Linked DNA regions of Homo sapiens: region 2 is linked to region 1. Evidence: fine-mapped expression QTL. A gene starts in region 1. The other region holds a variant in brackets. All regions are shown on one strand. Distances are from middle to middle. Region 1 holds the start of LINC00398 (long intergenic non-protein coding RNA 398). Region 2 overlaps ALOX5AP (arachidonate 5-lipoxygenase activating protein).

Evidence for each region. PIP is the estimated chance that this variant, and not a neighbour inherited with it, causes the effect.
Region 2: its variant is fine-mapped to the expression of LINC00398 in whole blood (INTERVAL, PIP 0.92).

The regions. Positions count from the first base shown.
Region 1 is chr13:30,801,087-30,806,463 of GRCh38, forward strand. LINC00398 (long intergenic non-protein coding RNA 398) reads left to right here and starts at 2,120. Exons shown (of 2, transcript NR_047012.1): 1 at 2,120-2,506. RefSeq lists a silencer at 1,895-2,014 and an enhancer at 4,173-4,673.
Region 2 is chr13:30,764,069-30,769,445 of GRCh38, forward strand. It overlaps ALOX5AP (arachidonate 5-lipoxygenase activating protein), which reads left to right. Exons shown (of 5, transcript NM_001629.4): 5 at 1-358. The coding sequence ends at 38. Among named protein-coding and RNA genes, the nearest start is that of ALOX5AP, 31 kb to the left of the region's middle. The variant G/C (reference allele first, on the strand shown) is at 2,428.

The sequences.
Region 1 (5,377 bases):
AATAGTAAAGAAGTAGTATAGGAAAATGTCACCACTTGGGAAGGCTGGCAGAGAATTTTAAAATCCTCTTTTCCACAAAAGATTACAGGTAACACACATTCATGAGTCCTTTGACCCAATGCAAGGTCACAGAGAGAATGTATCTGACACCTATTTTATTTGTGTTCTGCTCTATTCCAAAAAGGACTTAAGGTGGTTTGAAGAGGAGGAGACATAAAATAAAAGTTAAATATGTACTAAAAGCCTGAGCAAAAAAGAAAGGAAAGAAAAGAGTGGCAACATAAAATAGAGGCTGGAACAAGGTGAGGGAAATTAAAAGCACACCGTGCAGGTTGATATGGTTCCTTCCTGTGGGCCGTGAGTTTGGCTCTAGGAGTTAACTGGGAAAGGGAAACAGATGAATATTAAACATAAAAGCAGATCGATTGCTTAGGAGACCACTATTTTTGGAATCCAGGAATGGTAGGCCTTTCTCCTGCAGGCCTTTCCCCACCATCTGTATAATGTACTAAGCCACAGCCCTAATAGCATAATAGCATCCTGTATCTGATGTGGCCTCAAGCGGTTCAGAATTTGGAACTGTGGATCTGCTTAGGACTTCAGTTTCCTTGTTTCATAATCTGCTCCCGAATACCCCATATCTGGGCATATTCTTATTTGATTCAGGTCTGCTGTGGTCCAGATCTGTAAGACTCTGCCCTGCAAACAGACAGTATAGAAAATATCATCAGTGACCATATTATTTAACCTCCACATTATCACCCACATCCTCATGAGTGTGAGGGTCCAAATGGTACTGATAAGAAAAGTTAGTAAGAGGCAAGGTCACCTGCAGTGTCTGGGGTAACAGACACCACATCTCTGCAAGCCCCAGCCTTCAGCCTGCCAGGTGGAGGGGCAGACTCCATCTGATCTCAGAAAATTTGAGAACCGTCCAGGCACAGTGGCTCACACCTTTAATTCCAGCACTTTGGGAGGCCAAGGCTGGTGAATCACTTGAGGTCAGGAGTTTGAGACGAGCCTGGCCAACATGGCGAAACCCCGTCTCCACTAAAAATACAAAAATTATCCGGGCATGGTGGCACGCACCTGTAGTCACAGCTTCTCGGAGGCTGAGGCAGGAGAATTGCTTGAATCCTGGAAGCGGAAGTTGCAGTGAACTGAAATCATACCACCGCACTCCAGCCTGTGTGACAGAAACAGACTCTGTCTCAAAAAAAAAAAAAAATTGAGAACCTTCCCAGGGCCCACCTACAGTTGACTCTTGAGTAATGAAGGCTTTAGGGGTGCCAATCCCCACACAGTTTAAAATCTATATACAACTTTTGACTCCCCCAAACTGAACTACTAATAGCCTACTGTTGACTGGAAGCCTTATTGATAACATAAATAGTCGATTCACACATATTTTGTATGTTAATGTATTATATACTATATTCTTACAATAAAGTAAGCTAAAGAAAAGAAATTGTTATTTAAAAAATCATAAGGAAGAGAAAGTATATCGACTACTCATTAAGTGGAAGTGGATCGCCATGAAGGCCTTCAGCCTTGTGGTCTTCTGAGTAGGCTGAGGAGGAGGAGGAAGAGGAGGGGTTGGTCCCGCTTCTCAGGGGTGGCAGAGGCAGAAGAAGGTCCACCTCTAACTGGACACACACAGTTCAAACCTGTGTTGTTCAAGGTCAACTGTACACGCCACCGAGACCAGAATGGGTGGTTTGATATTTGTCAGTGGCAACAATTCAATATTCTATCCTTTAGATGTTTTCTCACTCTGGTCACATTTAATGTGTTTAATTGATGCTGTGTGGAAGTTTCTTCACGTTAGAGGATAAATAAGCCATTCCCTTTGATAGGAGCCTGGGGCTTTCCCTGCGAGGAGGGCACTTTGGGAGCAGCCTTCTCATTAGAGGGCAATTAGCCGGGCTCCCGCACCCGGTGCCCTGAGCGGGGCTCCTGAGTAGGCAGGGCAGACGCGCCATCTAGTGGCAGCTCTCAGGACGTCCACACGCCTGCTCCTGCGGGCTCCCGCGCCCTGGGGTGGCAGGCACCGGCATGCTAGAGGTTAACGAGGAGGTTCCCTCCTTCCAGCGTGGATGAGCCTTTCCGTGAGGGTGACCGGAAAGGCGCCTGGGCTGGTGACGGTGTCAAGTGTAGGCAAGAAATACGGCTGATCAAGAAGCGACTTCACCTCCCTCGCACAACACTGAGTCCCTTTGCGGCAGGGGCCCTCCCCGCCGCGAACCCTACTTGGAACCTTGCGCCATGCGATGTCTCTCTCATTCTAGGCCACGGAAGCCCTGGGTCACCCTTTCAGCCTGGTTCTCTCCGGTGGTGCTGGCTTGTTTCTCCTGTCTGTTGGGGTCAGCTGCGTCCAGCCTCGGCTCCTGCAGGATTGCCCGGGCAACCCAGAGGAGATGGGCGGGCGTGGAGGTCCTCCCTGGATGACCCTTCCCACCATTTCAACATCATTAGGAATTTAACAGGCTTTTGCAAGAAGGCCCAGGTACGCATCCCCCCATTTATAGTAGGATTTCCAGGACAAAATGTATTCCACTCTCTAAACAACAAGCAACATGTATACAACCCATTCATAAGGTAAAGATTCCCTTGCCTACACCTAGCTTCTCCTGCCCAAGCATGGCCTTGTCGTTCTCTTCCCCAGGTCAAGTTCAGGACCTAGCAGCTGGGAATGCACATTTTCCAAGTTAAGAGTGGAAGAGTCCCAGCTTGGCTTAGATGGAGTCACATATAGGATTCAGGTTTGCCTTGGCAGGTCTGATGGACCTTGGTGAGGGTCCGCCAGCAGCTGTGCACAGCAGCTGCCCAGGGCCATGCAGCAGGCACCGCACTCCCCTTCCAGGAAGGATTCCAGGCCCAGCTACAAGGAGCGTGGCTACTGACAGCTGTCCACTCACAGCTCGTCAGACTAAGCTTCAGCTTTCAAAAAGGACTGTGCCCTCCTTGGGCTGGCCCAGGCCCACATAAGAGCAAGGCAGTGGCCCAAAGGCCTGGCATTTCTGCCCACCACGGGATTCCTCTCCTGGGTGGTCTGTGCTCCAGAGCTCTCTGTGGGGCTGGCTTACTTCTCCCCTGGCCCCTCCACAGGAGTTACTCAGCTATAGCCCCTCTGCACACATAACTCTATCTGGGAGCCTTTCCCGGAGGATGCAACCTAACTGGTTGGCTCATCCTATAGAAGCCAGTGTCCTTGACTTTTTCAGGTGATGAACCTCTTTTGAGAGGATGCTGATAACTGTAAGCATCTTCCCAGGATTTGCACATGTCCAGTGTTAGAGTGCAGGTCCCCCAAGGCCATCCCACGGGCCTTCACAGGGAGTCGGGTTGAGGACTTCTGACTGAAGGAGGTGGGGAGGAGGCGAAGTCGGGGAATGAGGAAGATGGGGCTGGGGGATAATAACAGGGCTTCCGGCAATGGAGAGGAGGGTTAATTCTCATTTCTGACTCACAGCGCAGCCTCCCATGAGTTCATGGATTCTGTGGGAAAAACCAAAAGCCAATTCCCTCAAGTGCTATGTCAGGCCCTGCAGGCAGGTGGCCGGCGGTGGCCCCATATGGCTCTGGCACAATGAGGGCTTCAGAGAACAGAGCTGCCTCTGCCTGGGGAGTGCCAGTGGCATCAGCAGCAGGGGTGGTGCCCAGTCACCCATGTGGCAGAGGCTGGCTGGGCACCGTCTCCTCTGGGTAACATGGTGCCCACCAAGCCCTGGAAGCAAGGCCTCCCAGCACCTTTGCAAGCAGCAGATATCATCTAGCAATGTCCAGCTGGATGGAAAGAAGATACAACAGCTGGAAAGTGGCATTGGCTGACCTCCTCCAGAAAGTCTCTTTCCAAAATAATTGGCAAGGGTTTCAGGTGTTAGATGTTCTTCACTGACAGGTGGAGAAGGAGCTAACAAAACAAGATTGTGCAGGAATGAGAAGTCGTATTTAGGATGTACGACAGCAGACACACAGCACACACACACACACACACACACACACACACACACACACACACACACACACCAGGGGCTGTTTTCAGCACTCACTTATATTAATTGATTTAATCCACATACAGCCTCATGTGCTAGCTCCTATTATTATCTCATTTTACTCTCAAAAAAACTGATGCACAGAAAGGTTTAGCAGCCTGCTAAAGTCACGCAGCTGAAAAGTGGCAGAGCTGGGATCTGAGCCAGGAAGCAAGGTACAAGGTCTGTGCTCTTCATCTCCTTCTATGCTGGCTGTATGCTTGCTAGCGGCCATGAACTTGGACCTTGGGGTGGGAGGGCTCTGCGTTCATTCCCAGCCCCCCTTGTTACTGGCTGTGTGATTTCAGGTCGGTTTCATTCTTCTCTTTGACTCAGTTTCCTCAACTGAGTGTAAAATGATAGTGATCCTACCTCATAAACATGTGTGAGGCTTAAATGAGCTAATTATGTAAAAGATTTTTGCTGCCACACAGAAAAATGCTTAGTCTGACATTGAATATATATGAAATTTTTGGATCTGCGCCACCCACAGAACTCAGAGTAGGTTCTTTAAATAAACTTCTGCCCCAGACTCCCAGGCCAGCCCAGCCACTGAAGGCACCAAGACAGGAGCCCTGTGTCCGCTCCAGCCCTGAGGCTCCGGAAGCCAGGCAAGAGCATTTCCCGGTGGATTCCTGGCTGGGCCCAGCCTGGGGCCTCTCAGTGCTCCTGGTAGCCTTGCATTTTCTATCTTCAAGGGAAGCTTGAGTGCTGGAAGCCTGCCCGCCCCTGCACATTCCTACCAGCGCCTGAAATCAATGATGCCCTTGTTCTCCTTGGAAGCGTTGGATGTGTGGGAGAAGGTTGAGGGCACACTGTCATCCCGCCAAGCTGTCTGGAAAGCTGGAGGGTGCATGAAAGGCTGGGGAGCACCCAGTCCTGCATAGGTACCTCCTGCTTCAAATCAGCCAGATCCAGGGACTCACACCATGGCATCAATGTGAGGAGCACTATAAGAGGATACCCTTCTAGTGGGTTTCAAAGCACCTGATTAATACAAATGTAATCAACACGAAGCTTTTCTACTACATATTCTTTGTGTAAAGCCATATGCACTCACATTCAGAAATACTAAAGATCAGGTCTAGAAAAATATTCCTACAGGCAGAAAGAAGAGAGAGTCCAGTTCTAAACACAGGGAAGGGTTGAAGAAGCACAGTGGGTGAGGGAGAGCCCATGTGGGTGGGAGAGGATGAGGGCACAGGTGGATATTGTTTTAAAATTTGGTAGTGGCAAATTGGAAGCACAATGTAATTTCACTTACAATTTGCCTTCCATCAAATAGGATCCCCAAATACTCAAAGGCCTTAAATGGAGGCTTTTCTTTAACGATCTCAAATTTT
Region 2 (5,377 bases), 37 kb before region 1:
TCTCCACCACCATCTCCCCTCTACTTCTCATTCCCTAACTCTCTGCTGAATATGGGGTTGGTGTTCTCATCTAATCAATACCTACAAGTCATCATAATTCAGCTCTTGAGAGCATTCTGCTCTTCTTTAGATGGCTGTAAATCTATTGGCCATCTGGGCTTCACAGCTTGAGTTAACCTTGCTTTTCCGGGAACAAAATGATGTCATGTCAGCTCCGCCCCTTGAACATGACCGTGGCCCCAAATTTGCTATTCCCATGCATTTTGTTTGTTTCTTCACTTATCCTGTTCTCTGAAGATGTTTTGTGACCAGGTTTGTGTTTTCTTAAAATAAAATGCAGAGACATGTTTTAAGCTGATAGTTGAGGGGTTTTGTTAATGGCTTTTGGGGGATTTATCTCTATACCCACAAACGACTAGTTTGTTTTCCTCAAACTAAATGATAATATTAAAAATACACATCCTGGCCAGGTGTGGTGGCTCATACCTGTAATCCCAGCACTTTGGGAGGCCGAGGCAGGTGGATCACTTGAGGTCAGGAATTAAGACCAGCCTGGCCAATATGGTGAAAGCCTGTCTGTACTAAAAATACAAAAATTAGCCAGGTATGCTGGTGGATGCTTATAATCCCAGCTACTTGGGAGGTTGAGGCAGGAGAATTGCTTGAACCCGGGAGGTAGAGGTTGCAGTGAGCCAAGATCATGCCACTGCACTCCAGCTTGGGCAACAGAGTGAGACTCCATCTCAAATTAAAAAAAATACACATCTGGCTTCTGGAAAAATTACTTGAAGATCTTTTATGACATCCATCCCTCTTCACACAGCCATGTGAATTAGGTTGGTATCTTCATATACTAGCATCGTGCCCAGCACTTCCATGTTATACAGTTTAAAATGTTCTGTAATTCCCTGTGGGAACCTAAGATAATGCGAGGACCGTCATACGTGCCCCCAAATATTGGCAAACCAATGAATAAATGAATGAATGAGTTTATGAATCGCTAACTGGCTGTATTTAATGAAGTATGTGTGTTGAGCCATTTCCCACAGTGTGGACAGATTTGTCCCACAATATGGGCCTCTTCCCAAAGGCCCTACCACCTAATGCCATCACACTGGGGATTTGATTTCAACATGTGAATTTGGGGAGAGTGCAAACACTCAGACCATAGCACCATCTCAGTAAATGTCCCACTGGTCACTCAGTTCATAGTGACAGTGATCCAGCCACTGTCATGACAGGTGCCACTTGGCAGAAACAGCACAGCTTGGAAGATGGCGGGGTGTAGTCAAGATTCCAGGATCCCCAACAGAGAAGCCAGCTCTTATAGGGGAGCCATTCATCAGGATTGAACTCTCAATCGAGCTGGACAGTAATAGGTGGGTCTGTGTTATTCCCCAGATGAGTATCATGACAGTCACAATCCTAGGAAGGATGTGAAGCCTCCCCCAGCTCTCCTCCAGTTGCCTGCTTGGGCAGCAGAGATGATGGAATGTGGAGTCTGGCGTGGTCTGAGGCCTGAATCCATGTGCCTCATGTATGATGCTCAGGCAAGAGGATCTCTCAATTCAAGGGAGAGGGCCTGAATGAGCCTTGCTTTCCAGGCCTGTCTGATGGTCCAGGCTGAAGCCCCTCCTGGCTTGCACTGCCAGACCTCATCCAGCAGGAGCTCCTTGGCATTGACTGCTTCAGGATAGTTGCTTCTGCTCTGAGTGCTCTCTAAAGAGCAGTGCTCTACCATCCAAGCTGGGCTTTTCTTTTCTTCTTGCTGATAGGGAAGGCATGGGACATTGCAGGATGGAAGTGGCCCCCAGGCCTTCTCATGCCTGGGCTTGGTTTGGAAGGTGGTCAGGTGATCAATAATCCTGATTGGCCTGGCATTGAGGAGTTTTCCTGGGATGTGGTCCTTTCGGTTTTTTAAAAATTATTTTTATTGATACACATATTTGTAGGTATTTGTGGGGTGCATGTGATACTTTATTATGTGTGTGGATTGTGTAATGATGAAGTCAGGGCATTTAGGGTCTTCATCACCTTGATTATCATTTCTATGTGTTGAGAACATTTCAAGTTCTCAGTTCCAGCTATTTTGAAATAGACAGTCCATTTTGTTAGCTACAGTCACCCAACCCGGCTGTCAGACATTGGAACTTACTCCTATTGAACTGTGTATTTGTACCCATTCACCAAACTCTCTTTGGGCTTTCAGTTTTACAACTGGGATGATCCTGGGAAAACTAAAGTAAATCAGACACCCGACGTGTGAGCTAGGTTATAATATGCCCAGTGGACCCTGGGGACATCTTAGCTTTCAGAGGTCATGCTGTCCAAGCTGACTGTGGGGCTTCCAGAAGGTGGGGAGAGGAAATGATGCAATGGCCCATCAGAGGCACTACTTGGGGCCTGGGGCCAGAGTGCATGTCTAAG[G/C]CATTAAGGGGAGGGGAGAGCAGCCTTCATAATTATGAAGAGGAGTCTCAGGTGCACAGCTTCTGATGAGGGACAGCTTCTAATTGAAGACAGCATTGTGTAATGCTCAAACTCCCTGTCTTCAGAGTGCCTGCTGTATCCCACCATCAGTTCTGTGACTTCTCCCTAAGCCTCAATTTTGCATGTGTTACATTGGGATAATAATAGTGCCAAACTCATGGGGTTGTGAGGAATAATGAGGTAAAGCAATTGAAAAGGTTTAGCACAATATAAGTGCTCAATAAAAGCCATTATTATTATTTTATTACACTAGTTTTCAATTCCTGCATAGCAAATTCTTGCAAATGTAGGGACTCAAAACAATATAAATTTATTATCTGACAGTTTTTCTGGGTCAGAGGTCTTACTAGGCTGTAATCAGAGGGCAACCAAAGCTGTGATCTCAGCTGAAGCTCAGGATTCTCTTCCAAGCTCACTGGTTGTTGGCAGAATTCAGTTCTTTCCAGTTGGAAGACTAAAGCCTACAGTCTTCAGTCTCTAGAAGCCTTTTCTCTGGCACAGGTTTCTCTACAACATGGCCATTTATGTCTTTAAGGCCAATAGGAGAACATGATTAGCATATTTTTTTTAAGTGAACTTTAGACCCTTTTTTAAAGGCCTATCTGATTAGGCCAGGCCCAAGTGAGCTTTAAGTCAACTGATTAGAGATCTTAATTACATCTGCAAAGTCCCTTCATGTTTACCGTATAACATAACTTAGTGAAAGGAGTGAAATTGCAACCAGGTTCTGCCTGCACTCCACGGAAGGGGATTCTGCAGAAGTGTGGGTCACGGGGGGGTTATTTTGGGATTCTGCCTACGTCACTGAGTCAAAAGAAGCTGAATGGTTGTGATGCTGAGGTTTTTGGGCAGCAGCAGTGTGTGTGTGTGAGTGAATTCATACGTATGACCACCTGGGAAGAAAGGAGGCTGTGGTTTCCTCCACCTCCTGGCAGACAGAGAAATTTCTTTTTTTTTTTGAGACAGGGTCTGGCTCTGTTACCCAGGCTGGAGTGCAGTGGCTTGATCTCTGCTCACTGGCTCACTGCAGCCTCTGCCTCCCAGGTTCAAGTAATTCTTGTGCCTCAACTCCAAGTAGCTGGGATTACAGACACACACTGCCACGCCTGGCTAATTTTTGTATTTTTAGTAGAGACGAGGTTTTGCCATGTTGGCCAGGCTGGTCTTGAACTCCTGACCTCAAGTGATCCGCCCACCTCAGCCTCCCAAAGTGCTGGGATTACAGACGTGAGCCACCATTAACCATTTTTCTATCTCCTGTGGGAAAGGGCACAGTGAAAGAACAGATGAAGCTGAGACATACAAGTGAACTCCTCCCTCCTCTCCATTTAGACTAAAATAGGATTATTCATACTGAGATTCTCCCTGGTTGCAAAGAGATAATCTGTGCAACTGGGTTTTTACAATTATCCCTACCCTATGCTTTCCTCATCTGTCTTCCTCGTAGTCAGCTCAGGCTGCTATAACAAAACACCATAACTGGGGGCTTTTGAACAACAAAACTTTACTTCTCACAGTTCTAGAGGCTGGAAATCCAAGATCAAGTTTCTGGCAGATTCGGTGTCTAATGAGGTCCTGCTTTCCAGTTTATAGACAGTGCCTTATCGCTACCGCCTTACACAGTGGAAGGAGAGGACGAGAAGCTCCTTGGGCTTTTTTTTGTTTCTTTCTTTCTCTCTCTCTCTCTTTTTTTTTTTTTTAATAAGGTCACTATCTTAGTCCATTTTGTGTTGCTAAAAGGAACATCTGAGGTTGAGTAATTTATTTTATTTTAAAAAGTGGCCAGGCATGGAGGCTTATCCTGTAACCCTAATCCTTTAGGAGGCCAAAACAGCAGGATTGTTTGAGGCCAGGAGTTCAAGACCAGCCTAGGCAAGATAGTGAGACCCCATCTACCCCATCTCTACTAAAATTTTAAAAAATTAGCTGTGTGTTGTAAAGTGTGCTTGTAGTCCCGGCCACTTGAGAGGCTGAGGTGGGTGGAGTTCAAGGCTGCAGTGAGTTATGATTGAGCCACTGCACTCCAACCCGGGTAACGGGGCAAGACCTTGTCTCTATTTAAAAAAAAAAAATCTTTATGTGGCTCACTATTCTGGGTGGCTGGAAAGTTCAAGATTGGGCATCTGCATCTGGTGACAGCCTCATGTCGCTTCCAGTCATGGGGGAAGACGAAGGAGAGCTGGCACGTGCAGATATCACGTGTTGAGGGCAGAAGCGAGAGAGAGAGGGGAGAGATGCCAGGCTCTTTTTAACAACCAGCACTGGGGAAACTAATAGAGTGAGAGCTCACTGACTCCTGAGGGAGGACATTAATCTATTGATGAGCGACCTGCCTCCATGACCCAAACACCTCCAACGATACCCCACCTCCAACACTGCCACACTAGGGATTAACTTTCAACTTGAGATTTAGAGGGGGGAAACTTACAAACTATCGCAGGCACTAATACCACTCATGAGGGCTCCACCTTCATGACCTAATCACTTCCTAAAGGCCTTACCTCTTAATCTCATCACATTGAGGATTCGATTTCAACTTGAATTTTGGGGGGACACCAACATTCAGGCCATAGCATCATCTCAATAACTGTCCCATTGGTGGTCACTCAGGCCCCAAACAAAGGAACCTTCCTCCATTCCTTTCCGCCCTCCCACCCACAGTCAATCATCCCCAAGCTCCATCAGCTCCACCTTTAACGGCCAACCCACCTCTGCCACATCTCACCATCTCCACTGCTATCCCTGTCACCTGGGCCCACCATTCTCTCTCCTGGACAGTCTCCATAGCCACCTCTGTCAGATTTATTTTATTTTTTTATTTTTTTTTTTGAGACAGGTTCCTGCTCTGTTGCCCAGACTGGAGTGCCATGGCATGATCACATCTCACTGC